Homo sapiens: one gene and its partner. The protein of the gene in region 1 interacts with the protein of each later gene in a biochemical or structural test. Each region holds a gene or a part of one and is shown in the gene's direction. Other genes may lie near its edges. The genes, in order: ITGA9 and ITGB1.

Region 1 (2,769 bases):
TTCTTCAGCACTTCTAACTCAGCTTCTCTTTCTTTCTGCCTTTCAGATGGGCTTCTTTCGCCGAAGGTACAAAGAAATTATCGAAGCTGAGAAGAACCGGAAAGAGAATGAAGACAGTTGGGACTGGGTCCAGAAAAACCAGTGAGCTGCCACACCAGTCACATGACCTGATCACTAGCCTGTCATCCTTGGTCTTTGTATCTTCCATATTTGGAAGAAAAAAATCTTCTCCAGATTTTTCGGAGGCCCCACTGATGCTGTTCTCTTCTTCATTCTATCAAGCCCAGGTGCCAGCCTGAGGCAGCCACTTCGGCCAGGTCACACGACCGGGGCCAGCACCACTTCCTTTAAAGATGAACTCTGAACTTTGGAGAGTGAGCTACAGAGCCGAGCAATATTTATGGATGCAACACGCATGGTCAACCCTCAGGGGAAAACTGTTACCTAAAGTATTTTTATAAATATAAGCCTTTTATACTGATTATGTCTTTTATATTTGTATCGATGTTTTATTATTTCTATTAAATAGTTATATAATTCACTCAAGCACTGATATCTGGCCTAAAATCTTGGAAGTACATGTCCATGAATACAAATTTTAAAGGATGAAAATCTTACCGTACTTTGGAACTTGCTGTTTAAAAAGACAGATGAAATAAGTTGAAGAAACCTCATGTAATGAATCCACCAGGCTGGCAGTGGTGCATATAAACTGTGGGTGTGGCAAGACCCCGAAGACATTTCACATCTTTATCGCCTCGATCAAGTGTGGAGTCACATGCTAATGTGTGCTAAAGAACTGTAAGTGTTTTTTCATATGTACTTTTCATTGGAAGATTCCCAACAAGAATTTGGATGGAAAACCTGATCCCTAGCAAGAAGTCTGCTCTGTATCACCTTTATATAGCAGACATGTCACCCTGCTTCTACACAGATGATGGATGAAAGCTTGGAGCAATGCCATGTGGTCATCTGGTAAACCTCAGAATGGCGTCTCATCCTGGACATCCTGCATCAGAGTTCACACACCACAAGGACTAAATCCTTGTCCCCTAAGCAAAGAATTGGGTCTGAATGCTGTGAGGGATTGCCTTTTTGTGGTAATTTTCATTGAGAGATCTTCATTTCCCCTACCACCCTGGCTGTCCCAGCTAGTGGTGATTGCAGATTCCTTCCCAGAGAGGACATTTAACCGTTTTAAAAAAAATGTCTTAGATTGGGTTCCCAAGAAGCAGTCCCTGAAACAAGGATTTGTGTGCAAGTAACTTATTAAGGAAGTATTCCCAGGGGATACCAGTAAGAGAGTGGGGGAAGCAGGACAAGGAAGGAGACAAAGCCAGGCAAATGTTTGTCATTTCAGGGAGAGCTCCATGAAGTTTAGCCTCAGCCTGATCAGGGGAACTCCGGAGGAAAAGTTAGGCCTCAGAGGTGTCCCAACCTGAATCAAGGGGCTGGCTGCACCCAGAGGAGATGTAAACGTTTTATTCTCAATTCCTGCTGGCGTAATGGCTCCAGTAGCTCAGGACAGTCCTCTAAAGGACAACCACAGATGCATCCTCAGCCAGGGGAGACACAGGGAAATGATGCAAAAGAAATGATGCAAAGGATCTGAGCAGAACACTGCCCCTCCCCACCCCCTGAATGTGTGAGTGCTGAGTTACGGCCTTCAGTATCCAAGCTCTCTGTTTGACAGTAGATATATTGTCAGATGCACTGTGCTGCTTAGTTTTGAGTGCAGTGTGATTTTCTGAAAGGGCAATGAGATGATGGATGTAGCATGCTCAGCACTGACCTGGCCCATAGTGATCACTCAATAACTGTTAACAGCTATGGCTGCTATTCCTACTGATGGATAACCATCTAATAAGACAGAAAACATGGGGCTAAGAGCAGGGTCTAACGGAGTCTTAATGGCTTATTACAGCCTGCCAAAGTGCCAGCTACATACACATGGCATCCAGTGCGGATGAAACAATCTATAAAACCAAGGGTCTTTCTTATAGCACCTTTTTTACTGGAAGCTAACACGTTGGGAGTCCGTGAACATTGTCAAAAAGACATCAAACTCAACTTCTGGGAAGACAGATTTTTAATACACATACTTGGCTAATACTCACAAACATATCTAAAGTTTTGGCAAAATTATGAGGGTGATGGGTGGGTACTAACCTGGCATGGAGCAGGTGTGTCTTTTGGTTTCTTATGCAGTTGACTCTGCTGCAGGGAGATTACAGATGTAACCTCATGCTTCTCTTCCTGGTGAACATGGGAATAGACCAAAAAAATCAAGGGTCAATGGCATGAACTAAGCTGATCCTGGAAATCAGGGATGTTGCATCTAACTGTGGGATGGAGGCACAGAGGTAGCTACAGGGAGCAGGACGAGGCAAAGAAAGCAGCTGTCACTCAGAGTTCGCTTATGAGTTTTATCAAAAGCAGCAAGAAAAGCAGTCTTGGGTGGGTTTTATCACTTATTAACAGCCATTTATGAGGCCCCTGCTGTGTGTCAGGCACTGTGCAAGGTGCTGGAGGTTCCCCAGAGAACACTTCAGGGACATTTTGCCTCAGGGTGGCAAAATGCAGTGGCATGTGGACTTTTTGAATGGGATGCCATTTGCAGCTTTCCTTTGATGGACTCTTGTTCATAATGCCATGTTTTCTTTAATGAATCATTTAGGATTCTTAGGTGATATTTCTGGAACAGCACCATCAACAGCTTTGGCCACATGCACTTAGAGCAACTAACTTGCCTCCTGCCGGGGTGTAGGT
Region 2 (3,542 bases), on another chromosome or scaffold:
ACAGGCGTGAGCCACTGTGCCCCACCAGTATTATCCTTAAATAACAAATTTGTTATGAGTAAATTTTAGGGTTGGATAGTGAAAATTGATCACGAAATCCAAATTGCAAAATAGAAAAATATAACCTACTATGATATTTGTATGGTATGCAACTACAATATCATTATTGGTTCTCAAAAGATTTGAGATCAATTTCTTGAATATAACTTGAAATTTCATTAAAAGCCAGAAGACCATATATATGTATGTATATTATATATATATGTGTGTGTGTCTGTGTGTGTATGTGAGAATGATTCTAATTTTCAAATGTAAGTTTGTAACTGTTCATATCTGAATTTTCATGAAATGCTTCCAGCATATTCTAATAAAATCATGCAAGCCCCTAAAACTCTGATAACAAAGGTTAATTGTGATTAGAACTAAATTCTCCTGACTGGTGGTTGAGAACTCTTCTTCTCTTTCCCAACTGACTGACTGTAATAGGGCCTGGAAGATTTCTGCTTTTCTCACTGCCTACCTTATTGTGCAGATAAAGATGGTATTGGGAACACTTACATAAAAATCACTGTGTCTCAGGCATGATTCTGACCACTTAATCTGTGTTTAATCTTCATAGTGAAAGTTGTAGGAATGTTTTACATATGAGAAAACTGAGACACATAAGGGTTATGTAACTTGACCGAGTTCCCACGGCTGGTTAGTCAGAGAGCTGAGATTTGAACCCAGGCAGTTGGGCTCCAGAGTCCATGTTCTTGTCTATGACATTGTACTTGGTAGCAGTTATGTATCTTCAGAAGTCCCGTTACCTGGTTAGGAAGAGGTAGATCACTCTTTATAGAGATTTACAGCCCTTTTACAATTTGTTGTTACTCTGTCAGAGTTAACACTGCTGCTGTTGGCAAACATCATGTTAGGGAAATCACTTTAATACATGGAACCCAGTGCTGTTGTTGTGTTTTTTGACTATTGAGAGTGTGCTTACAAACTGATCATGAATAAGAGCCTACAGTACAGGAATGTTTAATAGTTACAAGTGATATAGGAAGTGCTGATAACATTAGAAATCATTAACTTGTCAGATTTTTATTTCTAAGTAGACCGTAAGATTTTTAAAGTTAAATTTGATGGCAGAAAATTATATTCAAATTCACATATGGGCAGGTTGGTACATATTTGTATTAGTCTGAGACAATATATTTTTCTCGTTCTCACTTAGTACTTTACAGAAAGTCATTTTTAGAGGAAAACTGATTAGCCAATGACATTGCCAGGCTTTTTTTTTTTTTTAATACATATTTTTTTCTTTAGTTGTAGGTCAAAAATAGTCAAATGTTGACAATTTCATGTGGTTATTTCTCACAAGAGAAAAAATTTCTGTCCTACTGAGGTGAAATTTTCACCCTTGCTGTACCTTTCATTGTATTTTGAAGGAAATTATCAGTAAATGTTATTTAAACTTAATGTTTATAATGTATATATGGCTAAAATGTTGCTAAAATAAGCATTTTATGTAATTCAGGAAGCAGAAGTTTGGTAAAAATTTCTCTATGCATTATTGAAGTCCAGGCAATTTGATGGCTACAGATTATTTTAAGAGATGTTTTTCTCAAGAAAAAGTAGAAATTAACAATTGAAATAAATGAATGAGCATCAAGAAATTACATCATGGATTGTAAGAAACTTTTCTGATATGGACCAAGGTTTGCCAGTCAATTATGTCATTGAAATTTTTGAAATAATGGGCAGGCGCTAATTACTTTGGCAGAAGACTACCATGTAGGAACATTAAGAAGAACATGTCACATTATCAGCTTCTAACTGTTGGAGTGGGTTAAAAAAATGGTCTGTCCTCATCTGCTGCTATGCGGGTTTAAATGTGGCTCCCAAATCTCCCACACTTCTGCATTATGTATTTAATACATTGTAGAGATGGTTCTGCAGCTACCACTGTCAGCCATTCCAGAGTGAGCACAAAGATGACATTTTACTGAGCTTGAGGGCTTCCTTTCATAATATAACCCTGTTCTCTTGCTGCGGGTTTTTTTGGGGTGGGGTGGTGTTGCACTCTGAATGATGGAAACTAATTTGAATTATTTTAGTTTACCTTCATTTAAAATGATGCCTAATACAGATAGTGAGCTTAATTTTACCTCTAACCTTGCATGTTAAACTTTTGTTTGAGTGGACTTTGAAATAATAAATACAAATGTTTGTGTATACGACAAGACAGATTTTTCTCCAAAGGTAAGTTCTTCCATATAAATTACACTTTGGACTCATCTATATAGGGCTTTTTTTCTTTATTTTTTGTTTTCTTTTTTTTTTTTGTCCTTCCCTTATAATTCTTGAGTATTAAATACTAGATTTAGCAAATATATTGTATTAAAGAAATTTAATTAGATGCTAATTTATTTTCCCAACATATTTGAAGGAATGTGTAGCACTTAGCCTCAAATCAGATAGGATATAAATGTGGAGTGTAATTTATTTGCACTCTGGCTTTTTAAGATAGTAGTTGCCAAAATCCAGTTTCCTGACCCCCATTTTGAAATGTCTGCTCTCACAGCTGTATAATGTATTAGCTTCAGTTGGGACTAGAGCTGAGAGTTTGATGTACACAGTTTTGTCATCCACATTATATGCTGTTTGTCTCTGAGGGATCCTGAGTTTGTCCATGTTTCTGAAACAACCAGTCAAGGTGTATTTTGAGGAGAGGGGAGTGAGGGCTGAGGTATGTTGTCTGGTTCTGATTGGTATCACATGAGCTGCTGAGCTGAAATCACAGTGGTTTATTTGGTGTCTTGCAGGACCCAGCCTTTATATGTTAATGTTTTTCCCTCATTGGTATGGGATACCTACAGGATGAAGTTTCAGACTTCATAGCAAGGCCTCTAGGACTGTTCTTCCTTTGTCTCCTCACCTCCAATCATATGCCCCCTTAATTCTTTTTTTTCCTCTTTTTTTTTTTTTTTTTTTTTTGAGATGGAGTCTTGCTCTTTCGCCCAGTCTGGAGTGCAGTGGTGCGATCTCAGCTCACTACAATCTCCGCTTCCCGGGTTCAAGTGATTCCCCTATCCCAGCTTCATGAGTAGCTGGGATTACAGGCACCCGCCACCACACCCAGCTAATTTTTGTATTTTTAGTAGAGACGGGGTTTTACCGTGTTGGCCAGGCTGATCTCAAACTCCTCACCAAAAGTGATCCACCCACCTCGGCCTCTCAAAGTTCTGGGATTACAGGCATGAGCCACCGCGCCTGCCCTCCCCTAACTCTAGAAACTTCTGAACTGTATGTATTTCTACTTAAATGTCCCATTCTTTTCCCTACACCTTGACTTTGCATAGATTGCTATTTACCAACCAATAATTTTTCTAGTCAATTTCACAATGAAAATCTCCTTAATCTTCTTAAAGTTAATAACTTTTTTCTTATACTATTCCCAGATTATGTTCATAACTCTATTGTAAACTTCATCAGAGTGCCTTATTTTCATGTCTCTCACCCACCAAACTATACCTTCCTTGAGGGCAGAAATTGTG

The links.
Region 2: the proteins of ITGA9 (region 1) and ITGB1 form a complex in vitro, tested with the Homo sapiens proteins (one study listed by BioGRID).

What each region holds. Positions count from the first base shown.
Region 1 is NC_000003.12:37,818,845-37,821,613, forward strand, and holds part of ITGA9 (integrin alpha-9 precursor), read left to right. Parts: intron 1-46; coding exon 47-145; 3' UTR 146-2,769. UniProt on the Homo sapiens protein: Integrin alpha-9/beta-1 (ITGA9:ITGB1) is a receptor for VCAM1, cytotactin and osteopontin. It recognizes the sequence A-E-I-D-G-I-E-L in cytotactin. ITGA9:ITGB1 may play a crucial role in SVEP1/polydom-mediated myoblast cell adhesion.
Region 2 is NC_000010.11:32,902,792-32,906,333, reverse strand, and holds part of ITGB1 (integrin beta-1 isoform 1A precursor), read left to right. Parts: intron 1-3,542.